Linked DNA regions of Homo sapiens. The protein of the gene in region 4 interacts with the protein of the main gene of each other region in a pairwise test. Each region holds a gene or a part of one and is shown on either strand. Other genes may lie near its edges.

Region 1 (7,683 bases), on a different chromosome or scaffold from region 4:
CTCCCTCCCTCCCTCCCCTTCCTTCCTTCCTTCCTTCCTTCTTCCTTCCTTCCTTCCTCCCTCCCTCCCTCCCTCCCCTGCTTCCTTCATTTTTTTGAGACAGTCTCACTCCATCACCAGGATTGGAGTGCAGTGGCTCTATCTCACCTCACTGCAACCTCCACATCCCGGGTTCAATCGATTCTCTTCCCTCAGCCTCCCGAGTAGCTGGGATTACAGGCGAGTGCCACCACACCTGGCTAATTTGTTTTTTGTATTTTTAGTAGAGACAGGGTTTTGCCATGTTGGCCAGGCTTGTCTCAAACTCCTGCCCTCAAGTGATCTGCCTGCCTCGGCCTCCCAAAGTGCTGAGATTACAGGTGTGAGCCACCACGCCGGCTGTGATTTTTCTATTCTATTTCTTAATATATGTAGTATTCAAAATTTCCTAGTTTTGTCAGAGGAGTAACAATAGTTTTTTTGTTACTTGTGCCTGTAATCCCAGCTCTTTGGGAGGCTGAGGCTGGAGAATCGTTAGAGCCCAGGAGTTTGAGGCCAGCCTGGGTAACATAGCAAGACCACATCACTGCCCACAAATATTTTTTTAAAAAATTACTGTACAAAACAAAAGTTTTTTTTAAATTATGGAGTTTTTATTTATTTATTTTTTTAGCACGGGCAACCAAAAGTTATTATTATTTTTTTTAACATGACACCCTCGTAACCCTGTCAAGTCTTTGCAGCAATGACCTCTGATGCATCTTTCCCAGACCAGCATTCCTCATGATCTGCCATCTCTTACCTCATTTCCTGGGCTCCTGGGTCTGTCTGCATTGCTGTTCTGCAAGGAGGCATTCTGCTCCAGGGGATATTCAAGGTCAGGGGCTCATTTACAGATTTTCCATTGTCCTGTGAATCTGTGACAATTCAGAAATGGAGCAAGTTAGAAGATACAGATCAACCCTTTTCAGGCAATTCTCTGTAAGCCTAGGACAGTAGCAGCAGTCATGCTGGAAGGTGGAGGAAGCAGAGTGGGAAGGGGTGTCCCTCCCCTCACTCCCTGAAGGGGAGTTTGTCACACCTCATGCTGTGTCAGATGGCCTGGGATGCCATCCCTATGAAAATTATAATTATGGGCCGAGTGCGGTGGCTCACACCTGTAATCCCATCGCTTTGGGAGGCCAAGGTGGGCAGATCACCTGAGGTCAGGATAGCCAACATGGTGAAACCCCGTCTCTACTAAAAATACAAAAATTAGCCGGGTGTGGTAGCGGATGCCTGTGATCCAAGCTACCTGGGAGGCTGAGGCAGATGAATTGCTTGAACCTGGCAGGCGGAGGTTGCAGTGAGCTGAGATCGTGCCACTGCACTCCAGCCTGGGTGAAAAAAAAAAAAGAAAATTATAATGATGATTTAAGCAACTTCATATACATTTACATATACATAAACATACATACGTAGTCAGTGGAAAAAAAGATATTGGAAATAAGAATACAAACCTGGCTAATATTTACAGGGCAATAAAACCATAACGATTGGTGTTATTTCTACTGGTCAAAAATCACTGGCAACTTGCCAATTTTTTTAGCATCTAACAATTCCCAAGTCCTAATCAATATGAAATAATAAGTCCAGTTAGCCTCCCCCAGAAAGTCTGCTCACCCGGGGGTGGGATTTTTAGGCAATGATCTGCTGTGATTTTGAAGGGGTACTCATTTTGCAGATGAAACAGAGAATGTCCCACACCTTCCAGACCCAAATCACACATCGTGACTCCAGATCATGAGCTTCTTTGGTGGCTGTGGAGTGACCCAGTAGCCCATTTTGTCTGCTCCTTCTCTTCCCCAGCCCCCACCCCGTGCTCTTTCTCACCATGTAGGTCAAGCACGACATTTTCTCCTTGGATTCTTGGATCAGGAAGTACTGAGCAGTCAAAAGAATTCGCTCCAAGGAGGTGACATGAAGGAGTCACTGTAAAAATAAAACTGTAAGGCTAGGCGCGGTGGCTCACGCCTGTAATCCCAGCACTTTGGGAGGCTGAGGTGGGCGGATCACTTGAGGTCAGGAGTTCGAAACCAGCCTGGCCAACATGGTGAAACCCTGTCTCTACTAAAAATACAAAAATTAGCCGGGCATGGTGGCAGACACCTGTGGTCCCGGTTACTTGGGAGGCTGAGGCAGGAGAATCGCTTGAACCCAGGAAGTGGAGGCTGCAGTGAGCTGAGTGAGCTTGCACCACTGCACTCCAGCCTGGGTGACAGAGCGAGACTCCATCTCAAACAAACAAACAACCCCTGCAAATCTGATGAAAACATTTATGGCTGGACATAAAGGCCACCTTTGGGGATGGCACTGTTCTGTCTATCTGGTGTCAGCATCCTTGGCTCAGCTTGGGGAGGTCACAAACTCGAGGCTCTTTCCCCAGCGGCCCTCTTGCCCTCCCCAGCTTCATCCCAGACACAGCCCTACACCTTCCTTTTCTTGCAACCCTGAAAGACTTCCCCGACCCCCAACCTTGGCAGCTGCAGCTGCTTTTCTGTCTGCTTACAGTGCCCTACCCCTGCCCTGTCCAACAGGGTGGCCGCTAGCCACGTGTGACTATTATGCACTTGAAATGTGGCTGAGGAGGGGAATTTCTCATTTTATTTAATGTAATTTACATTTAAAAGTACAAACTCATATTGATTCAGTTGTTGGGAAACTTTTAAGGGTATTTGGATCAATTTGGGTATGTAAATCCACTTTTCTGACTGTACATTTTATGCAATCTAATTCCAGATCAAGTATTTCCAATGAAAATTTGGCATGCGAATTGAGAGGGGCTGCAAATATAAAATACTCAACAGATTTCAAAGACTTCATGCAAAAAAAAGGAATGTAAACTATTTCATCGATATTTTTTATGTTGATTATTAACTACAGGATAAAATGGTAGCTTTTGCATCTGCTGGGTTAATAAAATGCATTGTTAAAATTAATTTCACCCATTTATTTGTACTTTTTAAATGTGGCCACTGGAAAATTTAAAATGATGTATGTGGCTTGCAGCATATTTCTGTTGGATGGCGCTACTGTAACCCCCTTCTCCATCTACACAGGCTTTGGAGCCAGAAGGATCTGAACTCTAGCTCAGTCTGTACCACACAATAGCTGTGTGATTCTGGGTAAGTGGCTCAATCTCTGTGGGCCTCAGTTGTTTATTTTTTGATCTGTAAAATGGGTATGGTAAGAATACCCTTGAAATGCCTGCCTAGCAAACTAGCACAGCCACCGGGTACCTGCATGAAATCAACCAAGCCTGCTCCCACTTTCTCCCCAGCCATGTCCTTATCCTTTTTTTTTTTTTTTTTTTTTTTTTTTTTTGAGATGGAGTCTTACTCTTTTGCCCAGGCTGGAGTGCAGTGGCATGGTTTTGGTTCACTGCAACCTCTGCCTCCTGGGTTCAAGTGATTTTCCTGCCTCAGCTTCCTGGGTAGCTGGCATTACAAGCATGCACCACCATGCCCGGCTAATTTTTGTATTTTTAGTAGAGATGGAGTTTCACCATGTTGGCCAGGCTGGTCTCGAACCCCTGACCTCAGATGATCTACCCACCTCGGCCTCCCAAAGTGCTGGGATTATAGGTGTGAGCCACTGCACCCGGCCGTCCTTACCCATTTGTCAAGACTCATCTGAAATATCATCTTCTTTGGGAAGCCCTTTCCTAACCCCAGCAGAAGGGTCTAATGCTTTGCCTTTATCTCTCCTGTAAACTTTCACACATGGCTTGCATTAAAATGACATCATTACAATATTGTGGGTTCCTCAAAGGCAGAGACCCCAGCTTCCTCGTGTGTGAGAATGTGCTTTTAACTTTTAGTATACGGGAAATTTCAAACATATGGAAAAGTTGAGCTTCCACGACGATAGTATTTCAATCATTGTATTTTTCTTGCTTAACTCAGTGCTTGATACATGATTTTGTTAGTGTTTGTGGTGGATGGCAACAGCCACAGATTCTACCACCGTGGAGTGGTGAAGTCAATTTCCCCAACCCCTTTGGTCTGGGCTGGCCCTGTGGGCTGGTTTGACTGACAGAACATGGTGCAAGGGACTATGCAAGGTCTGAGTCTCCGTCTAGGCCTCAAGATGCCAGGCAGCTTCTGCTCTTGCTCTCTCAGAACCCGACTGCCATATGCATAAGCCTGGGCCAGCCTGCTGGGGGATGAGAGACCACGTGGAGCAGAGGCAGGCAGTCCCAGTTCACAGACCACCAGAGAGATGAGTGAGGCTGTCCTCCACCTTCCAAACCCAGAAGAGCCACCAGCTGACTGCAGAGGTTAGGTAAACTGGCCCAGACACAGCAACCACTAAACCAACCCCCAGAATCATGAGAAATAATAAATATTGTTGTTTTAAGTCTCTATATTTTGAGGGGAGTTTAACGTGTGGCAAACAGCTACCCAATACAGGGTTTAATGAATGTTTTTGAATGCACTGATGAAGTCTCTGGATTTAGCAGGGGTTGCCACTCTGGCACACTCAGGGTAGCATATATAGTCTGGTGGCAGCTGCTGTGCCTCCCGGGCTGGGAAACTGTCACACATTCTTCACCCCCAGCAGGCTGCCTGTCAACCACAGGAGCACGTCACAAGGAAAAGAGTCTGTAGCACCAACACCCCATTTGTAAAGTTTTCTGAACTTTATTCTGCTCAATGCATATATTTTGAGCAGATAAAATGTGCTAGGCACTGGTCTAAAAGATTAAGAAGTCTTGCTGCAAATCTATTCCCAAGGTTTTAATCTCATTTATTTTCAGAGCAGCAGAAGCTTTGGCTATGGCAGTCACAGTGAGAGAACAGGACAGAACCTCATCACCGAGACAATTCATGTTCTCAGATGACCCGTAATGTGGATGGCTCTAAGTCTCCCTCCTAGAATGCATGTACAGCGAGGGGTGTTTTGCTGAGTTCTAGAACAAGAAATCTCTTTTCAGTAGAAGCCAGTCTAATTGTCTAATTTGGGTCAACCCTTTCTCCTAAGTACACACGTCATCATAGTGGAGGAATTTGGGTTCTTTAGATAATGGTTTTAAAATGCACTACCCTGTTGAAACTGTCCTTGGTACTTTTCAATGCCACTTATCCTTTCTCATTTAATGAGGACCTTTCAGCACTGATGACTCCAGTTGGATGTAAGGGAACAGCCGTGACAGCTGTCCCTGATACTGACCTGCCAGGCAGCTGGCGTTCCGTTCGGGGTTGTCTCTGGCCTTGGCTTTGCTTTTGCGTCTTATGGAGCGATTGAAGATGGAATTTCTCTTAATTGGGATGTGGCAATGAGGCTCTTTGTCTTGGATATCCTGGTCAGCTTGAGAAGTCTCCTCTTTTTCTGGGAGTAACTCAGGTTTCACCTTGGCTGGTTCATTATCAGTGTTCCATTGATCACTTGCTGATTTCCTCCGGGTCTTTTCCAAATCTTCAGATTCCCTGGTCTCCATGGAAATAGAGCCAGATGTTTCTCAGCAGAACGACTGGAGGTCAATGACTTTCCCAAGCTTCACTGGTTTGAGTGCTTTAGAATAGATAGAAAACAATTTTCAGTTAGTCATCAGGCTAAGTATTCTATTCAGACTGTGGAACTCCACTCCCATTCGAATTTGATGAAACGTGGGATAATCTGCACATCCTGGTATCCACGTCTTCGCCACTGAAAATTACAGCTTAATCTCTGCAATTTGGAGGCATTCACGTATCATTTTATAATTGCCGTTTGTTTACATTATTCCTAAGAGGCACTTTTAGGGGGAAATGTTTAAAGTGGCTTGCAAAACTACATTCAAATAAATACTTCTTAAATAATTCCAGAGAAAAAGGGTGGCAGAAATAGTGAGGGAATTCCAGGAAAGCATTGAGAGGGACCGTAAATGTCTAGACAGGAAAAGAAAGTCTCAGAAGATGAGAAAGGGTTGTGGGCTGGTGCAAGGTCTCACAATGGTAAGTTTAGACATGGGCAAGGTTGATCCCCAAGGCGACAAACCTTGCCATCAGCTGGCAACCAAGTCTAGTGGGTGCATTAGTGGCCTTTCTGATGGAATGATGTATGGCCGTGGTGGAAGAATAAGGTCCCCCCATCCCATGGCCACCCCACCATGGGCTGGAGAAACAGAATGGTTACCTCCCTCTGGGGTGACCATATAGCATATCATCTGAACGAGGACACTTTTCATAGGAAAAGGGGGATACAACAGGAACAAACCCCACCTCCCTCCCCACAAAGACCTCCTAGGGTAGGGGTGCTCAGGGCGAGAGACTATGTGGACCCTCTTAGTGGGTCTAAGCTGGTGGGACAGCGTGTTAGACAGAGAGGCCGAGCTAGGAATTCTTCTCAGCTCTCCACTCATCTGAGGGCTTGAAACCTGGGGTCACATGGATTCTATGGAGGTTTTCAGGGTACAAGGCTGTGTATGAGCATATACATTTTTCTGGCCTATCGGTCCAGAGATTCCATCATACCTTCAAAATGGTCAGAGACTTGGCCAGGCACCGGCCTATAATCCTAGCACTTTGGGAGGCCGAGGCGAGCAGATCACCTGAGGCCAGGAGTTCAAGATCAGCCTGGCCAACATGGAGAAACCCTGTCTCTACTAAAAATATAAAAATTAGCTGGGTTTGGTGGCACATGCCTGTAGTCCCAGCTTCTCGGGAGGCTGAGGCAGGAGAATCGCTTGAATCTGGGAGGTGGAGGTTGCCATAAGCAGAGATCTTGCCACTGCACTCCAGCCTGGGCAACAGAGCCAGACTCCATCTCAAAAAAACCCTTCCAGTCCTCTTCTGTTGCTCCCTTCCACAAACATCCAGCTCAACCAGTGTTCTACGATTCATCAGGAGTGTTTGTCTGTGTCTTCCTTTGTGAAATGGGGAGCATGGAGGGCTGGGTTTCAGATGCCTCCTTTCCCACCGCACCACTCCTCTTCCTCCACAGTCCCTCTGAGTTCCCAAACACCTTCTTCTACACCCACCAGCCAGCCCCACACTACTGATCTCAGGGCAGGTGGTCTGGCAGAATAGTCAGGAGGTTGGGTTTCCCCTACCCCAGGCCGAGAATGCCTTCGTTTACCTAAGATAGGAATTAGGACTTTCTGGGTAGGGGGATTTGAAGACTGAAGGCCACTCTGGTTCCTAGAACCAGCTACTTCCGACACAGGTTTGTATCAGAAGGTTTGCCCTAGGATGGCACCTCCTTCCCACCTGCTTGCAGGGCTGATCCTGTTCTATTAACCACCTTCCCTGTAAATTGTCAGCCAGGCAGAAATGAGCATTAACGTACTCAGAGGTTGCCTCAGAGCAGCTGGGCCACGTGCAGGGGCACAACCTGAGCTCATGGGGACCTGGGGAGTGCCTTCCCCACCACGGTCGTCTGGGGGACCCAGCAATACCTGACCCTTCTGGTCCCGGCCTCAGTTTCCTGATCCATGAAGTTGGAGTGTGCACTATGGGGTCGGTGAAGCCCCTTCCAACTAGAAAGCAACGCTGCTATTTCAGGTGGCCAGAGAGGATTGTGCGGTGGCTGGGAGGACACACTTAGGATGGACCATTAATACGCACCCTTCCCGGGAGTGCCTGGGAGGAAGATGCTTGTCTTATGTGTGGCAAAGAACCCACAGCTCCAGCGAGATGGGGTGATTTTCATTCACAGCAAGTTTAACCTGGGTCACTGAGGGGA
Region 2 (7,683 bases), on a different chromosome or scaffold from region 4:
TGGGATTACAGGCACACGACACCACACCCAGCTGATTTGTGTATTTTTAGCAGAGACGGGGTTTCACCATGTTAGCCAGGCTGGTCTTGAACTCCTGGCCTTGTGATCCACCTGCCTCAGCCTCCCAAAGTGCTGGGATTATAGGCGTGAGCCACCGCGCCCAGCCTCAAGTCCATATTTCTAACTGACTCTGAGGCATTTTTAATGTATGATGAATAATCTCAAAATCAAAATATCCAAGATGAAGCTCAATTTTTTCTTACTCCCAAACAGCTCCCAGTAAATGAGACTGAAGCCTTGGAATTACATCAGACCCTTTCAAATCACTGAGTCCTCTTAACTCTTTTGTTGAAATGTTTCATTGATATCGATCCCTCCTTACACAGGATGATGATGATAATGATAACGATGATGGTGGCTAACATGTATACAGTCCTTAGGACGTATCGAGCATTTTCCTGAGGAAACTATATTACCTTATTTAATCCTCAAACAATCCAATGAGGTGTTATTATCCCCATTTTAGAGATAAGAAAACTGAGGCACAGAAAAGTTATATAACTTGCCTATAAAAAAGTTATACTATTAATGAGTAGCAGAGCTAATCCATACTCTTACCAGCCACCCTACACAGTCTCTGTACATGAGACTGCCTCTCTCTAAGAGCACCTGCACAAATAGCAGCTAGGCTAATACTTTGAGTAGTCTTTTGGCTTCAAATTGAAAGATTGGTCTATCCAATCTTCAGTTCAAGGTAAATATGGCATCAAAAAAATCACCCAGAAAGAAAGGGATTAATCTGCTCAGCACGATGCGGTCCCCTGCTCAGGTGGTCAGACCCTGTGCTCACGCCAGGTCACTACCACTAACACGCCTAACCACTGGGGGCACCACTGCTCCTGCCACCCCAAGAGTAAAGAAGAGTAGAATGCTTCCCCCTTGAGTCAGTAAAGATACAGTTATAGATTGTCAAAGAGACACTCTACTCTGCAGCTTAAGGAAATCTGAACAATAAAGACCCCTCAACCCACAGCAATTAGTTAATCAACCAAGTGCAAATTTATACCTAATTTTTTTAACAGCCTTGTCTGGCTCTCAAGAATGGATGCTTGACAGTGGGCTAAAATGTATATCTTGAGGTAGCTTTTTAGTTTGTACTGGTCCTAGGTCTGATGGGATCTCTACCCCAATCAAGATTTCCTCACAATCTTATCTCCAGGATGCCACCTCCCACATTCCCCTCTAGCCCACAGCTACATTTCTCTAAAACCACTCTAACCCACTCTCCATTTCCACATATTGCCCCTAAAGATGTTTTCTCTAAACTAGGGTTTCTCATTCTCTGCACTATTAACATTTTGAGCAAGATAATTCTTTGTTGCCAGGGGCTGTGCTTTGTAGGATATTTAGAATCATCTTTGGCTTCTACACATTAGATATCAGGAGCATGTATCCCTCCCCATCCCCTACCCCCAACTGTAACAACCAAAAATGCCTCCAGATAGTATAGCGTCTGAGTCTAGGGTAGTAGTTGAAAACCACTACCCTAACTAATAGTTCTCGAGGTGTGATCCCCAGACCAGTACATCTGCATCCCCAGGGACTTGCTAGAAATGTCAGTTCTCAGGCCCTAGCCCAGATCTACTGAATCAGAATTTCCAGGGGAAGGGCCTGATAACCTGTGAACTAACTACCTTTCCAGGTGGTTCTGACGGATGTTAAAGTTTGAGAACTATTGATCTAAACATAAGGCCATCCTTAGGGAATAAAAGCAACTCTGCTTCTTTTCTAAGTCTCCATGGCTCCGGCCCCCTAGGTCCAACCCTTGCTTTGATCCACTTCTATTTGTGCTGTTTGATTAATCTATAATCTCTTTTGCCCCTAACCTATTGTTAAGACTGCTCTATCCTCTTCAGAAAACATTGGCTTCCCCACTGGCATTTTAGGCTGGTCCCACTGGAAGCCCTATGGCCTCAAAAGCAGGAACCATCTTTCTCTAGACACAAAGTCAGAAAGGGACCTTCCAAGTCTTCCCACCCCAATGCTCAGGTGTCCCTCTATGTCCCTAACCATCTCTCTGTTCTCTCTCTCTCTCTTTTTGTTTAGAGCTGGGGGTCTCACTATATTGCCCAGGCTGGTCTTGAACTCCTGGGCTCCAGTGATCCTCTGCCTTGGCCTCCCAAGGTGCTGGGGACTACAGGTGTGAGCCACTAGATCCAGCCAAATCCCTGTTTTCTGTCAGCCTCCTCTAGCTCCCTGCTATAAGACAGAAGCAACGATTGGCAAGTCCTGGGCTCAGGGCACCAACAAGTCTTTCTGGCTTTGGTAGCCAGTTCCAATACTTTCCCAGGTTTTATGGATGACTCACCTCTTGGGTACTCTACAGGAAAGTGATCTTCCAAAATTTTTTCATTGTATTTTTCAACTAACATACCTTAAAACATAGAGTCCATTTAGAATGTCCCAAAACAGTGTGTATCATCAGAGTCCATGTGGCAGCAGATCTTTCATCACAACACACCACCAGAGTCAACTTCCTAAATCTTATTTCTCCTTTGCTCAGCAATTGCCAGTAGCTAAACAGTGTTAGCAGATAAAAGTACAAACTTTTTAGTCAGGCTTCATGGTTTTCCATGGGAAGTGATGAGCAGAGCAGTTTGGAGCCAGATTTAACTAGGATTCAATTCCAGCTGGACTGCTGAGTAGCTGCATGACCTGAGACAAGTCATTAAACCACTCTGAGTCTCATTTTCCTGGTCTACAAAATGTAGATAAGTCCACATCAGAGTTTTGCTGTTAGAATCCCTGAAATCATGAATCTAAGTACCACACAAATGCCACTGTTAGTAAAACTTTTTAAATCAAGCTATTTTGGGGCTTTACAACCATTAACTCACCCCTAACATGCTCTCCAAAGCAGGTACACACTTGGTGTAATAAGCAGACACATAGGTGGCCGTATCGAGCTTACCCAAAATTCCTGTACTCTTTACAATGTAGTGCTGAGCAACAAAGAAGCCTCTTCCCCTGTGCCCACACCCACACTCACTTCTGCCCCTCAGCTGCAGGGCTGCCCCAGCCCTCTCAAATCAGAGAATGCGCCTCCTCGCTCCAAGTCTGTCATTAACCAGCTGTCTGGGGCTAAATGATTTCAAAAGCCCCTTCTCCACATAAAATTCTAAAAAAAGAATCATTAAAAAAAGCAACAGGATCCAAGCTAATTGCATATCAATCATGAGTGAATATTAAGCAACTCTAAAACACTAACATAAATCACCAAGAAAATGAAATGCAATTCTGCCCAGACACAGTGCTCCTGTAAAGGTGTGCTTGAGTATACAAGCATCCATATTATCATTAATGCCGGTTCCTCCTGACTTCTCACCAACTGCTCCTCGTCTCCATGGTAACAGCCCTTCCACTCATCAGGAACCTACTGAACATACAACTCCATCGTTTTTTTTTTTTTCTCTCTCTACCCAAGGAAGTCAGAGCAAAGGTAGGATCCACAGGAAACATAATGCAGACAAGTTCAGGGTGGGCACAGCCCCCTCTTCTCCTTTATATCCAAATTCCGCACCCTCTCCCTGCCACCCTTTCCCCTGCAAGGCCCCCTCAGTCCTCTCCACCCTCCCAGGTGCCAGACTGCAAGTCCCCACACTCTCACCATGTTGGAAATGCTGCGGGTATTGGCAGGATTCAGCATGACAATCTCAGTTGTGATGTGGCCCTCCACCGCCTCAGTCATCTCATCCACTGTGCAGTTGATAGAAGGGTCGTAGATCTTGAACCAATTGTCAGCATACCACCCAATGAGGAACCAGACGTACTTCTTCCCAAAGAGACGCTCCTTGTACACCTGAATACAGAGGAGAATGGCTGAGTTTTTGTTTGCTCATTTGTTTGTTTTTGTCTTATCTCACTTGATACTATTTAGCCTCTTGGGAATCAGGGAAGAGCAGTAGAACTAAAAAGAGAAATCTACAAGTCTTGGGGATAGTAGGAAAGGCTGACAATTCTTCCTTCTAAGTTTCTCCCCAGCCCCTGTATTTCTGAGTGGCCTTTTCCAGCCAGTCAGGACAGATGGAATTCATGGGCTTCTCAGGAAACACAAAGCAGTAGAAAAATGAGATCTGAAGAAAGTATCATGTGTGTGCAGACAAGGGATGCAGTCAGAGCCAACAGACAGAGACATCCTATGAATCGTCACCTCAGATCATATGCTATCAACTCAGGCACAGATGCCAAGAGGAGGCCCCACAAGAAAACCAAGGGAAACTCCCACCCAGTGCCCCTCCCTCTTCAGATCCAACTCCACCTCACAAAAAACTTTCCGGGCTTCAGTCTCATAGAAAAGTCCCACGATGATTCGGGCATCCTGGCGCTACAACAGAGAAAGAAACAGCTCCTGAGGGATGCCCGGGAATGCCTGAGGGGCTAAGCCAGATGTCTTCACAGCTTTGATTTCCCATCCCAAAGTGCTTAGTGCAGGGTAACGCTCAACGTATAGTGAATAAACGTCAACTGGAAGATGGAGCTAAACTTCCCCAGGAGATGCTATTGCCTCAGAGAATCAAAACCTGCCCCCGCCTGGCTTTCCTCTCCAACCAGTCACTGTCCCCCAGCTTGGTCCCTCCGTAAACAGAGCCCACCACTCCCAGCCATCTGACCTTCAGGTTTTTGACGGGCACAGCTGGATCTGAGAAGAAACTCTGGCGGAAAGTAATCTCAATTCCAGCCTCCTTCACTCGTTCCTCCAGGTCGTCCAGAGTCTTGGGTGGGAATAAAAAACAAGTTGGAAAAACACGGGGTGCATGAGGGAATAAAGACCAGAGAGGTTAACTGGGGATTTCAGAGCAATACTCAGATAGAGCAAAGAAGCAGCCATTCTGAACCTTCCTTCAACAGCTTCTGTCCCTGAAGTGAGGAGTTCGGGAAGGCATCTGGTCTTAGGATGTGGATTCCAAGTGGGAAGGTGAATGGTGAGCCCCTGCTGAGGCTCTGTGTGGGGGAAGCCACTCCATTCACCCACTCCTACCACTGAAGGCAAAGATGGGGTAAAGAAACATAAAGGAACCAGGAAAAGACAAGGCAAGGACTGGGACAGACAGCATGATGTCAACCTCAAGAGGCAAATGGGCAGACAGACAAAGGATCAGAGAAGAATGGTCTGAATCAGAGTGAAAGTGGGGGAGGATTAAAGGGCCACTGAACACAGTGGATAGAAGACCCAAAGAATAGAATAAAAGGGAGGGAGCAGACTGCCTTCTTCAGATGTAGAGCCTGTATTTCCTCTCTACCTCCCCAAATCTCCCTCTTCCCCCTCAACCTCTCCTTGTCTGTCGGCTTCTCTCTCTTAGTACCAACTACCAGATCCATGCAGCTGCCTTTCTGCCCCTCTCTCTCCTCTCCCTCATTCCTCTCTCTCTCTCTCTTTCCTCTCCCTCTCTCCTCTGTAATCCACTGGCTCCATCCCCTCTGTTCCCATTCACACCCACCCACCACCCCCCTTGAAAGCCTCTGGAATCTGCTGCCTTCCTGGATTCCTATCTCATCTTCGCTCCCATCTCTTGCCCCCACTTTGGATTGAACCTACTTTAACAGAACTGAGTCATTCTGGGTCTATATGTCTGGGGAACAGGGCATCAAACAGGGGAAAAAAATCATAAAATCATAAAGACAGAGAGGATCCCAAAAACTCAACTCATTCTTTCCCCTGGCTACAGAAAGAACTGCACTTAATCCACATGGAATGCGTTCTCTTTCAATGAAGAATCAAGTTCTTGCCCCTAAAAGTGACTCTCACGTCACATCTCCTGGTGCTGGAATTTGAGCTTATGTCCCTTTACCCCTTGCCCAACCCCTCCTCACCGAAGTGAAGACCTCAGTGGTCTGCTGGATGGTAGCAATCTTCTTCCAGCCCCACTTTTCAAAGAGTTTCACGCGGGTAGGGTTGTGGAGTGTGGCTGATGGGTGCGTTCGGAAGAAAGTGGGGAAACGCTGCCGGTTTGACAGGGCTGGTGAGCTGGAGCCATAGGAAAGCTGTGGGGCAGGGAGAGTGAGTGCAACAGGGTCTGTTCACTGAGGACACCAAGAGTGGCCAAGAGTTCCTTTAACCCTCTTCCTGCCTTTGGGTTTCTCTTCCTTACTCTCTCCAAACCTCCCCACCTCTGGTCTGCCTAAGGAAAAGAGATTCTCAAAGGCCCACACACCCCTCACAACCGGGATGCTCTTTCACTGATCTAATTTCAATTCCTTCTGAAGAAGGAGGTCAGCTGCAGCACTGTCAGGCCACTGTTGCTAGGAGGCTGCCTAGCTCAGGTCTGCAGAGGACTCTGAATCTTAGTAGCAGGTCCTCCACACTCCTTTTCAATACAAACCCACAATCGCCATCGTCCCTTCAGTAGAGCTCAAAAGGGAATGACCCCATCTTCTGACCCCCATAGCCCTGCTTACCACAATGAGGTTCCACATCCTAGCAGCCTCAGCCACCAGCGTGGAGACAGAGCTGCAGCCAGGCATAAGGATGATCTTGATAGGGTCGTTGTAGAGCAGCTCATATAGGTACTTGGTGGCTTGGCCTGGATCACACTGAAAGACAAGAGGAGATGAGGGCAAGCTCTCCTGGGGCCCCTCCCCTGTCTGCAATTCCTGCTCTTATCTTTCTCGAACAAATTAGTTCCTTTCTCAATTACTCACTTTCATCATTAATTACCGTTTTCTTCTCCTTTCTGGCATCTCTTCCTGTCAAGTGCCTTTTTTCTCCTCTTTCATTAAACTTCCTTCTCTGTCTTCCATCTGGAGCCTTACCCATCACCTCTCCTGCACACCCCTCCTTTGGTATTAATGAACATACCACCTTACCTCCTTTCAGCTCACCCTCAGACATCCCCCTTCCCTCTGTCACCAAGCCCTTTACCCCATGTTTCTATGCTTCAAACACCAGTGGGTGGAAGAAGTCAGTAGGAATACGGTAAACTCTTTCCACATCCCCAGATAGCTTGCTCAAAGCCATATTATGAAAATTCCTTCCTCACCTCTGCAAACCCCTTCTCCCCACCTTCCATTTGTTTCCTCCCTCTTCTCTTTTCAGAGCTAGTGATAAGTAAAGAGAGAACAGGAACAAGACCAGTAGGGGGTCCCGCTCAGTGATCCATCCCTCCTGCTGGGCGCTGACATTTGACAGGTCCATTAGAAAAAAAGACACTGGGGGGTGGAAGTAGGGAAGAATGTAGGATGAGGAAAGAACAGAGAGAATGAATAGAATGGAACTCTCAAGAAACCAGACAATTTGAGAGGTGCCTTAAAGAGAGGCTTGGAGCTAGGGAAAGTAAACAAGCAGAAAGCTGGAGAAGAAAGGAAGCTTGGGAGGAGGGGAAATGGGGGAGGAAGAGCCAGCCTTGGGTCTCCCACTGCCTGTTCCCCTCCCACTGATATATGACATTTCAGAAGCTGCTGGAACCCCAATGCATGTGAAGACGAAATGGCAGCCAGTGGGGAGCCAGGGCAGAGGGGACACAGACAGGGGGCTCAGGGGACTAAGGAGGGTGAAATGTTGCCAGGAGGGGAGGATAAGTAGAAAGGAAATAAAGAAAGCACTCTGGAGCCTGCTTACCTCCCACTGAGGCCTGACATTTGGGACACGGTGGGAAGTTGGAGAAGGGGGAGCCAGGGGAAGCTGTT
Region 3 (8,466 bases), on a different chromosome or scaffold from region 4:
GCCAGTGGTCACCCGAGCAATGCTACAGGCACCCAGACGCCCAAGGCTTATGGACAGGAACAAAGAGAGGTGGTTAACTTTTCCCAGCTCCCTCTGCCAGAAAGGCAGGGCTTGGATGTCCTGAGCAACCAGGGAAGTGGACAGCCAGAAAAAAATTTGAACCTAAATCAGGGATTTAAACTCCTTAAGGTAAGGGAAACACACACACACACACACACACACACACCCACACACGATCAGGGATTTAAATTCCTTAAGGGTAAGGGACACACACACACACACACACACACACAATAGAAAGCAAAAACCAAAGGGGAAAAATGATTAATTTAGCTACATCAAAGTTTAAATATTCTGTAGGACAAAACTTCTAAATAAAATTTAAAAGCAAGCAAAAGCCTAGGAGAAAATAGTTGGACCCAATACAAGAGACAAAGGATAAGTGTGCAAAAAGAATGAAGAACTCCTACAGAGAAAACCATGGAGAAACTGACACAGGATGGGAACAAGAGCTCAGCTGGAGAAACACAAAGGCAGCCTAGACAGCCACCTGAGAAGAGGTTAGGGAAATAAAAATGAAAGCCGATGGAAAGATACATTATGTTTGAGGAATGGAAGAATTTCAATGAAAATGACAATTTTACCCAACGCAATTTACAGATTCAATGCAATCACTACCAAAATACCAATGTCATTCTTCACAGAAATAGAAAAAACAATTCTAAAATTTATATGTAACTACAATAGACCCCAAATAGCCAAAGCAATCCTGAGCAAAAAGAATAAAGCTTGAAGCATCATAGTGACTTCAAAATATACTACAAAGCTGTAGTAACCAAATCAGCATGGTACTGGCAGACACATAAGCCAATGGACAGAAGAGAGAACCTAGATATAAATCCACACACTTATAGCCAACTCATTTTTGACAAATGCACAAGGAACATACTCTGGGGAAAGGACAGTCTCCTCAATAGATGGACTGGAAAAACAGGATATCCATATACAGAAGAATGAAACTAGACCCCTATTTCTCACTATATTAAAAAATCACATCAAAACAGATTAAAGGCTTATATGATTTAAAACCATGAAACTACTAGTAGAAAATATTGGGGAAATTTTGCAGGACATTGGTCTGGGCAGACTTTTTGTGTAAGACCTCAAAAACACAGGCAACCAAAGCAAAAATAGACAAATGGGATTACATCAAGCTAAAAAGTTTCTGCACAGCAAAGGAAACAACAAAGTGAAAAAATAACCCACAGAATGGAAGAAAATATCTGAAACCACTCATCTCACAAGGGATTAATAACCAGAATATATAGTACCAGGAATTCAAACAACTCAATATAAAAAAAATCCAATTAAAATATGGCCAAAAGATCTGAATAGATATTTCTCAAAAGAAGACATAAATGGCTCACATATATGCAAAAAGTACTCAACATCACTAATCATGAGAGAAATGCAAGTCAAAGCCACAATGAGATATTATCCCACCCCATTTTAAATGGCTTTTATAAAAAAGACAGGGAATAATGGACACTGGTAAGGATGTGGAGAAAGTGTTCCTCGTACACTGTTAGTGGGAATGTAAACTAGTTCAGCCACTATGGAGAACAGTATGGAAGTTCCTTTAAAAACTAAAAGCAAGCCAGATGCAGTGGCTCAAGCCTGTAATCCCAGCACTTTGGGAGGCCAAGGTGGGAGAATAACTTGAGGCCAGGAGCTTGAGACCAGCCTGGCCAACATGCCAAAACCCCATCTCTACTAAAATACAAAAAATTAGCTGGGTGTGGTGACACACGCCTGTAGTTCCAGCTACTTGGGAGGCTGAGGCATGAGAGTCACTTGAACCCAGGAGGTGGAGGTTGTGGTGAGCTGAGATTGTGCCACTGCACTCTAGCCTGGGCAACAGAGCGAGATTCCATCTCTGAAAAAAAAAAACAAACTAAAAACAGAACTACCATATGATCCGGCAATCCCACTAATGGGTACATATCCAAAAGAAAGGAAACCAGGATATTGAAGAGATATCTGTACCCCATGTTTCTTGCAGCACTATTCACAATAGCTAAGATATGGATCAACCTAAGTTTCCATACCAGATGAAAGGATAAAGAAGATGCGGTACATATACACAATGGAGTACTATTCAGCCATAAAGAAGAATGAGATCCTGTCATCTGCAACAATATAGATGGAACTGGAGGTCATTACATTCAGTGAAATAAGCCGTGGACAGAAAGACAAACATCACATGGCCTCACTCATATGTGAGCGCTGAAGGAGGGGATCTCAAGGAGGTAGAAAGTTCAATGGTTACCAAAGCCTGTGGCGGGACAGGGGGAAAAAGGGAGGATGGTTAATGGCTAGAAATACACAGTTTGATGGAAGAAATAAGAAATCGTGTTTGATGAATCAATACAGTGACTATAGTTTACAATAATCTATTTTATATTTCGGAATAGCTAGAATTCAAATGTTTCTGGAATAAAAGACCAATCTCTAAAATGATGGATGTCTATATTGCACTGATTTGATCTTTACAAGTTACATGAACGTGTTAAATTATCACAGGCAACTCAAAAATATGTACATCTATTATGTGTCAATAAAATTTTTTTAATATAAATAAATGAACCTGGTGTGATGCACCTCACCTCACCACCACTAGGGCAAGGGGTGGGGAGAAGGGCCTGGAACACAGCCACAGGGCTCTGGGTCTGCCTCTGCCAGAGGCAACTGGGCAGTGACCACTCCAGGCCACACATCCTCACTCAGCCACAGTCTTGGTGAGTCACTCACACGCGTGCCTGAGGAGGTTAACCCAAGAGTGCGCAGCCACTGTGCTTGGTGACAGCAAACACCAGAGCGGCAGGTGCTGGCGCAGCCCTGATCCGTGATTCATGCTGGGAACACGTGTGCAGCTGTACCTAGAGAGCCCCAGCCCTGGTCCACCCTCACTGTGCCTGCACATGGTGCCAGAGGAAGGCCTGGCCAGGGTGACCCGGGAGCAGGGCCCAGCTGGTGTCAGCACCACACCTGCTCTGTGCCCCTTGCAGGGTGGGGGATCTCCCAGCTGTGGACATGGCCAAAGGCCCCTCAGCTCCACCTGAATGTTGGAGTGTTTGCAAGGAGAACATGCTCCAATGTCCCTGTGTCACTGACAGCTCGTGCAGATGAACAACCAAGCACAGGCTGGAGGAGGCTCCTGTGGGAAAGTGGGCTGTGGGCCAGGAAACCTCTAATCCCAGAGCCCCAGGGAGGAGCCAAGATGCCAGAAGATGCCAGTGGAGGCATTGCCTCCAAGGTCCCCACAGAGGACATTGGGCAATGTCTGCACATGGTTTTGGTTGTCCCGACAGGGGGTGATACAGGACAGCCCCCCAAAACAAAGAACTGCCCCACCCCAAATGTCAGTAGTGTGGAGGCCGAGAAACCCTGCTATGGGGCAGTGGTCAGAGACCCTTGTGCCTTGAAAGGGGCTAGGCTGGGCAGGACAGGTTGTGGACCACCTGGGGCCACAGTTCAGAGCCACGCCTGAGTCTGTGAGGCTGCCCACCCTCCCAGCTGCCAGCATGGGGTTGGGGGGTATCCGCCCCCATCAGACTGAGGAGGAAACGGACACTCTGTCACCCAGAAGCATCCCTGTGTCACCCTGTGAGGTTGGCCTTGGACCCAGGCCTCTAGGCGCCCCGTCAGCACCCCAGTGCGAACACATCCTGCCCGGGGACCTGGACCCAGCAGCTCACACAGACCAGGGCTCGCCCAAAGGCAGGCAGGCAGGGCCACTGCTGACCACGCACCTGGCTGGTCGTGATTCTGGAACTAATGGTTTCTGCCTGGCAGGGAGGCCGCCAGGACCTCTGGGCTTCACCCCTCCCCACCTTCACAGGGGACCTCGCCTCAGTGGGAATGTTCTGGAGCCGGAACCCAAGGTTGGAATCCCAGCTCCTCCCCTTTCTAGGTCTGTGACCTTGGAAAAATTAAACTTTCTGTACCTCTGTTGCCTAATCTGTGAAATGGGGTAATACTACCTACTGTGTAGGGCTGTGAAGATTAAATGGAGTCATGCATTATCATCACAGGGCACCTGGCCCATCCTCAACCCCAGTTCAGACTCCTCAAAGCCCTAAGGTTTCAGATCAATGGTCAGAACCACGAGGAGGACCTGCTAAAGACAAGTATGGGGACCCACCCCCAAGGTTTAGGATTTAGAAGGTCAGGGTGGGGCTGGGGAACCCGCATTTCTAGCAGATCTCAGGAAAGGCAGTGCTGCTGGTCCTGGGACCACAGTTTGAAAACCACTGGTGTAAAAAAAGCCTTCTAAAAAAAAGTGGGATTTGATCACTAAAGTCATATGGAAAAAACTGGAAGAAAGAGGAAAAAATAAACAAATAAATAACGGGATTTTAAAGAGACCTATCCCACCGGCTCTCCTGGATGGAGAGAGTGTGGGACTCTGAGACAGACTCCCGGCTGGGCACCCCCAGGAGGTTTTCTTCACCAGAGGTTTGCACCGAGCCCACCCAGGACAGTGGGCTGAGCCTGTGGTAGAGGCTGGCGGGAGGTCTGGCTGAGGCAGCGAGGGGTCCCTGCGCGCGGGCGCTGCAGGAGTCACGCGTGTGACATCCAACCAGGAGCCGTGCCCTGAGCAGGCCAGGAAGGAGGAGACAGGGCCGCTGAATGCACACCGCAGCGGTGTGGGGAGCGGCCTCAGACACCTAAGGGTAGGACCGGCCGGCTCCCCCGCGACCCCCAGCGCCTGGGTTCTCTCCCGGCCTCCCCGAGGCGTGGCCTACCCCAGGCATGGCCCCACCCCGCCCCAGGCCGCCCCTCCGACCCCTCGTGTTTACCTCATCTCCCGCGCGCCTTTCCCCCACCGAGTCCCCCAAATCCCGGTCCCCACCTGACTCCCCCTCCCGCCGAGCCCCCAGGGCCCGGCGCCCGGCTCACTCGCCTCCCGCGCACCCACTCCCGGGCGCCCTCTCCCGCGCGCCTCCCCGACCCCCCTTGGGCCCCAGCTGACCCCACCTTCCGCCCCAACCCCGCCCGGAACAGGGCCGCGCTTACCGGGTCCCCTCCCAGGCGGCGGCGGGAAAGAGGCGGGCGGAGGACGCAGGGGCGGGCCTGCGGCTCAGGCAGGAAGCGGGAAGGCCGGGCCTCCCTGGCCCCGCCCCGGCCGGGCGGCCGGACCTCGGACGACTTGGCGCTCCGGGACAGCAGCAGACGCCCAAGCTCCGGCAGCGCAGAGCCCCGCCGGGGGCCCGGGGGGCTGGGAGCCGGGGATCGCGGGGACGGAAGTGGGGGACCGAGTCTCGCGAGCCCGGGCCCTCCTCGCAGCTGGGGCCCCACTGGCGCCCCCGCGGGAGCGCTACGGGAGAGGCGCCTATGCGGCTGCAGGTTTTATTATGGAGCTGTCAAGGTAGAAAGGTACGGAGAACGGGAACCCACCGACAGCCAACTTCCCTTGGGACCCGCCTTTTGCTTTAAAAACAACAACGACAAGTCTGTGCTTCACCCCACACATGCCTTTCGTTTTCCCTTTTTTCCCAGAGTAATTTTAAAGCATCCCAGTGGATAAATTCTCCTTTAAATACTCGAGTATGTTTAATCAGTAAGGCCTATTTTTTTAAACATTCTCATAGTATTACGGTCACACCTAACGAAATTGGCAATTCCCAGTCCGGGCCTGAGGGAGGCCTGATGGTTCACAAGACTTGGTAAAATATATCATTATATTTTAAACCAAAAAATAAATGATAAGGCACCTCCCCGTTCCCAACCACCAAATCATCCGAATGGACTTCTTCCTCAGCCAGGACTTTTAGAATTTAACCTGAAAAACTGGTTCAGGCCATAAGGGGAAGTGGAGGCCGAACATGCCTCATTATCCCTCTCCTGCATTAACATCAACACAGACTTTAAGTCTGATAAGAAACATTTTACAGCCTCTTCTCTCTGAAGCCTGCTACCCTATCCGAATACTTCATCTGCGTGATAAAACACATTGGTCTCCACAACCTCTTAACCCAGACATTCCTTTCTTTAATCCCAGGTCTTTGGACAAACTCAACCAATTGTCAACCAGAAAATGTTTAAGTTGACCTATACCCTAGAACCACCCTCCCCCTCTTTGAGTTTTCCTGCCTTTCTGGATCAAACAAATTTATTTCTTAAATGAACTTAACTTGAAGTCTCATGCCTCCTCAGAATGTATTAAACCAAGCTGCACCCCGACCTCCTTGGGCACATGTTCTCAAGACCTCCTGAAGGCTGTGTCACTGGCTGTGGTCACTCATATTTGGCTCACAATAAATCTCTTCAAATATTTTACAGAGTTTGACTCTTCCACAATAATTTGGCACCCAGCGTGGGGCCTCAGAGAAGACTCAGGACCCCAAAGGAGTTGCCTGAACTCGGAGCGAAGATACCAGTGGGGCCCATTGAAGCCTCCCAGACTTCTAGCTTCTCCCCCGATGGAACTGGTTAAGTTCTCCTGAGCCCCAGATCGCCCTTTGGTTGACAGTCCTTCGTTTAGTGTGAGCTGGTTTTTCTCCTAGGAAGTTGTTGTTTAAGGATTCTAATTCTAGTTCAGAGACACATTCTAAAGGGTTTTCTTTATTGCTTTTTCTCCCAAAATTAATCTTGATTCGGCTTGTCTGCGCATTTGTGTGAGGAATTGAACTGTTGTTTTCATAGGTAAATGAGAGACTGAGTTTTCTCAACTCCAAAGAGAAAGGCATTTGCTCCTCCCAGCCAAAACGTGCTCCTGGGTGACTGGGGGCCTTGTGGGAGTGTCTGGGGGGGGGTTGACATCCTGTGACATGCAGCAGCCCTATGGGGAAATCCCCAACAAAAATTAATTTTAAAAATGGCTTGTCCAGGAATGCATATAAGGACTGATCACCCATCATTTTGAGCCCTCTCAAAGGTAATAGACCTCTGGAGAGAGAAACTGAGACATGTAACAGGGTGGAAACAACTCAGTGGTGACACATGGTGGGGTCCTGCCCACAAGCAGCACACATTGATCCACCACACAAAAACCCTAGGCCACAGCTCAGTTCCTACTTCTAAGAAAAAAAAAGGTGGGAAACAAATGATCTAAGAATGAGGAGAAAACAAGGAGAATGACCTCATTTCGGGCACTCTGTTGGTTTTATGGTGCGTCTACTTGCCAGAGCTTATGTAAAATGGAAATATAATGATCCTTGTGCACATTTACATTAAGGAAAAGAGCCCTAAGGTCAACCTGTACACTATAGAGTTCCTAAGTTCTCTTCTTCTCTATATTTTCTGCCTGCTTTAAATCTGCTTTTACTTTTGTACTGAAATTAAAAACCACTGTTTGGATCTAACCTATTTTTCTTTTTCTTTGTTTTCTTGTTTTTTTTTTTTTTTTTTTTTTTTTTTTTGCAAGCTGGGGAATTTGTATTTATCTCATGGCTAAAGTTCTGAAGTAAAAGCTATAGGATCTGTGTGTGTGTGTGTGTGTGTGTGTGTGTGTGTGTGTGTGTATTTAAAAGGATTTTATAATAGACTTCTATAATTTTGTTTAAATGGCAAATTAAATCCATTTTAATTTCCCTCTAGCAAACCAGACTGTCTCTTGGTACTTTGAGATGTAAATTTTGCTATCTGATTTTTCACCTAAGAGTTGTTTCCTTTAATATGCAAATGTAGGACTATTTAGCTGACAACTGCCCAGGGTGATGAAACAGGCTATCATGAATTTAAAAGTCTAAGGGAAAAAGAGGTCTTACAAATACATAAGATGTACTTCTATTGCCATGCCTAATACGCTATGCATTTATGTGTTGTGTACACAATGTGTCACTACTAAAAATATGTAAAAGAGCTCTAATTAGCTTAAGTAAAAATAAAAGCACTTAAATACTTGATCAAAAAATACTAATCAATGCTTTTCAAGTTCACGTGACAAGTAAAATATTTAATAAATAAACTGTCTTTAAAATCATTGGTAAAAAAAATTAAAATGTTCTAAGAATTGTTAGTATTTTTGTTTGCATTTATTGATCAAGTAGCTTCATGCTTATTCCTTCAGAATACTATAAGATTAGCCATAGGGTTATAAAACTATAAAACCCAGCCCAAGACAGAATGATCTTTGCTTGTATAATTTTTGATAAATAAGACATGGAATATGGTTGGTTTAATGAAAACAGCTAAATCATGAGTTACTGGAAAAAATACTCTTATATTTAATCATAAGTTCATTATTGAAGTAAACACCTGAAATTCACAGCTATAAAAATGGTTAACAGGGAAATAACTTCAATAATGACTGTCACAGTTTTTGTTAATAATCCAGGTAAACAAATAAATTAATCAGGTAAAGGTAATGGAATAAGTGTTTGTAAACAAACGTCATATAATTTAGGACCTCAGGTTATTAATAAGTATTAAGTATCTGGGTAATTTCCAATTTAAAAATTA
Region 4 (3,996 bases):
CCCTGCTGCCCGGTGGGTGGAGGTGGGTGTCTTTATGGCCTTGGCTCCAGCTCCCAGCACTGCCGCCTCCATGCCCCTCACTCACAGCACATAGTCCCGGAAGCTGCGCTCCCACTCAGCCTGGTTGAAGAAGTCGTAGAAGTGGCAGCTGAAGGTAATGAGCACAAAGCCAAAGGCCAGGAAGCCAAAAATGCCTGTGGAGGACAGGGGCAGGACAGGACGTTACCAAGCCCAGTCCCGCAGCAGCAGTGGGGAGGAGAGAGTCTGCCCCACTGGGCCTCAAAGTTCACCCAGCTGGGGCTGGGGTGAACTCATGCTGGGCTCAGTCCAAGAACTGCTTTCTCTAAAATAAAATAAGAAGGGCACTTGAAGCAACTGTGGGAGGGACCACGTGGGACGTAGTGGGCAGGAGGAACCAGTCCCGGCATGAACTTGACTGAATTCTTCCCCCCGAGTAGACCCCCTTCTTTTGAGCTGCCACTACCACTACCACCTACACACACCCCTTGTCCTTGTCCCTATGGCTAACTTGTCCCACTGACTTACTGCATCCTGCCGGTCGCATAGCCCCAGGAGGGTGCAGTGTTGGGCTGGCCAGGACCTCAGACCGAAGTCCCCCGGGGCCACTCACCCAGGCGCAGCATGGTCTCGTTGATCTTGCTGGCAGCCTTCTCACTCAGCAGCCCGGGGTGGTTGCTCTTGATGGAGAACAGAGTCATGACTCCTGAACAGAAGGGGGACCTCAGACATTAGCAGGGGTGAGGCTGCCCTGCTGGGAAGGATGGGTGAGTGGGAGGAGGGTCCTAAGGCTCTGGAGTCCCAAGTCTGATTACCCCTGTGCTAAATGAAAACCTGGGGAGCTAGAGACACTGGAGAAATGGTGAGAAGACCAGGGCAGAGCCTAGACAGACACTTGAGAAGAGGGAGCCTCGGTCGTGGCCCAGCTGCCCCTGAAGAAGGGGGCAGATCAAAGCTGTTCTGATGGGAAAGACATAAAACAGACTCAAGAACAGCGCTATCCATATAATTTTTTTTTTGAGATGGAACCCTGTCGCCCAGGCTGGAGTGCAATGGCGTGATCTCGGCTCATTGTAAACTCCGCCTCCCAGGTTCAAGCAATTCTCCTGCCTCAGCCTCCCAAGCAGCTGGGATCACAGGCACCTACCATCACGCCGGCTAATTTTTGTATTTTTGTAAAGATGGGGTTTCACCATGTTGGCCAGGATGGTCTTGAACTCCTGAACTCAGGTGATCTGCCCACCTCGGCCTCCCAAAGTGCTGGGATTACAGGTGTGAGCCACCATGCCGGCCTTCCCATAGAAATATGTGAGCCACATACATATGGCAAATTTCTAGTGGCCACTTAAAAAAAGTTAAAAGAAACAAGCAAAACTAATATCAATATATTTTACAAACCTAATATATTCAAAATAAAATCATTTCAACATGTAATCCATGTAACAAATTATTAATGAGATATTTTACATTTTTTTCCCACTAAGTTTTTTTTTTAATACAGTGTGTATTTCACATTTTACAACACATCTCAATTTGGACTTGTTTCTTTTTGTTGTTGTCTTGTTTTCTTTGGAGACAGGGTCTCACTCTGTCACTCAGGCTGGAGTGCAGTGGCAAGATCATGGCTCACTGCAGCCTCAACCTCCTGGGCTCAAGCAAGCCTCCCACCTCAGCCTCTCACATAGCTAGGACCACAGGCATGTGCCACCCTGCCCAGGCAACTTTTGTATTTTTTGTAGAGATGGGGTTTCACTATGTTGTTCAGGCTGGTCTCGAACTCTGAGCTCAAGTGATCCGTCCGTCTCAGCCTCCCAAAGTACTGGGATTACAGGAGTGAGCCGCCGCACCCAGGCTGGACTAGTTCAACACATGTGGCTAGTGATTACCATACTAGGACAGCATGATAACGAAGCACAAATCAGAGGGCCAGACACTATGCCAAAAAGAGGGGAAAGAGGTGACTGAACAGAAGGCTGGCAGTTCAGGGTGAGGAAACTGAGGTTTACAAAGAAAACCCAACAACAATGAGCTAAATAGATGCTGAGGCTTACTATGGGATGGCAGCATGAGACAGGAAAGTTAGGGACCACTAATTCCACGCATGCTGTGAGAGCTGTGTGTGCCGGGGACAGAAAGAAGATGAAAACCAAGCTCCAGAAGATTGACAGTACATATCGAATTAATGTGCACACAGATAACCAAACGACCTAGGTTGGTCCAAGTGGGCAGAGTAGGTTACTCAGGGTGTTCATCACACAAGTGCACCGGCCAGGAGCTGACTGGGGCTGGATCCTGACCCAACTCCACCTAACAAGCTGTGAGGCTGGGCACTGTGGCTCATGCCTGTAATCTCCGCACTTTGGGAGGCTGAGGTGGTGGATCACTTTAGGTCAGGAGTTCAAGACCAGCCTGGCTAACATGGTGAAACCCCGTCTCTACTAAAAATACAAAAATTAGCCAGACGTGGTGGTGCATGCCTGTAATTTTAGCTATGGGGGAGGGTGAGGCAGGAGAATCACTTGAACCCAGGAGGCGAAGGTTGCAGTGAGCCAAGATTGTGCCACTGCACTCCAGCCTGGGCAACAGAGCTAGACTCTGTCTCAAAAACAAAAACAAACAAAAAAAACAAGCTGTGAGCCCTGGGCCAAGGCCCTGGAGAGAGGGATGGATTTTTCTGGCCAGTACAAAGGTGCTGTCCCGCAGCAAGTGCTCACGGTGTTTCGTCTGCCTAGAGGGTCACCTTCTACTGTGTGAAGGCCCTATAGGAGCTAGCTGGGGTTTCAGCATGGGGGCAGCCGTGCTGGCAGCTCCCAGTACTGGCAGCAAGTGCCCAGTATATTTTGTTGCCCAACTGGTCCTGGCCTGGTCTTCACTCACCTCGGATGAGGAAGTAGCCTCCCACGATGAGCACCAGGCCGATTGGGGCCAGCACGAAGCCCGCACGGTATCGGTAGTTCTTGTAGCCCACAAAACAAATCCCACTCACAGAGTCCCCATCCACCTGCAGCAGGAAGGGGTGGGACAGAAGGTGGGTTACTGGCCCCCTCCCTCAAACTCACCCCATCCAGGTCTCCCGTTCCTACCAGTCACTATACCTGCGCCACAGCAAGGATTGCCACAGTGAGGACAAAGGGGAGTGACCAGGTGAGCAGGTGGAAGTAGGAGGTCTTGCCCGAGAGAGGCTGGTAGGTGGTGCCCAGGGCTTTGAAGGAAGTGTGCCAGGCATAGGTGAGGACCACAAACCAAACCACACCAGCCATCAGGGCGTAGTACACGATGACAAAGATGATGACGCAGGACAGAGTCTCATTGGAGCTGTGCAGAGAGGTGAGGTGTCACTTGAGGCGGTCACTCTGTACTCCCTCTACCTGGTCTCCCCACCCTGTGCCCAGACCCTCAGCTGCTGAGGTCTGGAGGTTCCCAGAAGTCAGGGCTTGGAGACAGGACCCAGGTCAGATCTGAGGAGGCTCTAGGAGCCGCCCCTTTGAGCAGATACAAACCATGAAGGTCCTGATTCTGAAACTAAGATCCTAACACTGGAGATCTTGCATGCAGTATGCAGTAGGGCAGAGCCAGATCCTGCCCTGGATCTCGGTTTTACACGCACCTGCTCCCTTTGGGGTAAACGCACACTTCAGCCTTCCTCCCTGTACCTTCACCTCTGGGTCCCCAAGACACCTACGTGGGCTCCCCAAGCCTCATGGTGCCATCTGCACGGCAGACGATCTCTCGGCGGGCACCATCCATGAACTGGGCCAGCCAGCCAATGCTGCCCACAAAGAAGCACGCATTGACGTAGAAGAGAATAACAGCAGGGTAGCGATTCGAGTTCCGCCAGTCAGCCACGAATGTGGCCTAGAAGAGAGAAGTGGGCCATTCTGTGAGGTTAGGGTTATTCTGCTGACACAGACACCCTTAACTGAGCCCCAGACCCTTCTGATCATGACCCTTCCCTGGGGACCCCCACCAAGACCTCTT

Evidence for each region.
Region 1: the proteins of SMO (region 4) and NGEF interact in a two-hybrid assay, tested with the Homo sapiens proteins (one large-scale study listed by BioGRID and IntAct).
Region 2: the proteins of SMO (region 4) and GABBR1 interact in a two-hybrid assay, tested with the Homo sapiens proteins (one large-scale study listed by BioGRID and IntAct).
Region 3: the proteins of SMO (region 4) and SLC41A3 interact in a two-hybrid assay, tested with the Homo sapiens proteins (one large-scale study listed by BioGRID and IntAct).

Annotation. Positions count from the first base shown.
Region 1 is NC_000002.12:232,969,433-232,977,115, forward strand, and holds part of NGEF (ephexin-1), read right to left. Parts: intron 5,533-7,683; 5' UTR 5,459-5,532; coding exon 5,191-5,458; intron 897-5,190; coding exon 782-896; intron 1-781. UniProt on the Homo sapiens protein: Acts as a guanine nucleotide exchange factor (GEF) which differentially activates the GTPases RHOA, RAC1 and CDC42. Plays a role in axon guidance regulating ephrin-induced growth cone collapse and dendritic spine morphogenesis.
Region 2 is NC_000006.12:29,617,434-29,625,116, forward strand, and holds part of GABBR1 (gamma-aminobutyric acid type B receptor subunit 1 isoform a precursor), read right to left. Parts: intron 6,592-7,683; coding exon 6,457-6,591; intron 6,043-6,456; coding exon 5,872-6,042; intron 4,773-5,871; coding exon 4,671-4,772; intron 4,385-4,670; coding exon 4,319-4,384; intron 3,860-4,318; coding exon 3,668-3,859; intron 1-3,667.
Region 3 is NC_000003.12:126,079,014-126,087,479, forward strand, and holds the start of SLC41A3 (solute carrier family 41 member 3), read right to left. Parts: upstream 5,112-8,466; 5' UTR 5,080-5,111; exon of another isoform or gene 4,916-5,079; intron 1-4,915. UniProt on the Homo sapiens protein: Na(+)/Mg(2+) ion exchanger that acts as a predominant Mg(2+) efflux system at the mitochondrial inner membrane.
Region 4 is NC_000007.14:129,205,487-129,209,482, reverse strand, and holds part of SMO (protein smoothened precursor), read right to left. Parts: intron 3,874-3,996; coding exon 3,701-3,873; intron 3,334-3,700; coding exon 3,114-3,333; intron 3,020-3,113; coding exon 2,896-3,019; intron 725-2,895; coding exon 632-724; intron 195-631; coding exon 86-194; intron 1-85. UniProt on the Homo sapiens protein: G protein-coupled receptor which associates with the patched protein (PTCH) to transduce hedgehog protein signaling. Binding of sonic hedgehog (SHH) to its receptor patched prevents inhibition of smoothened (SMO) by patched.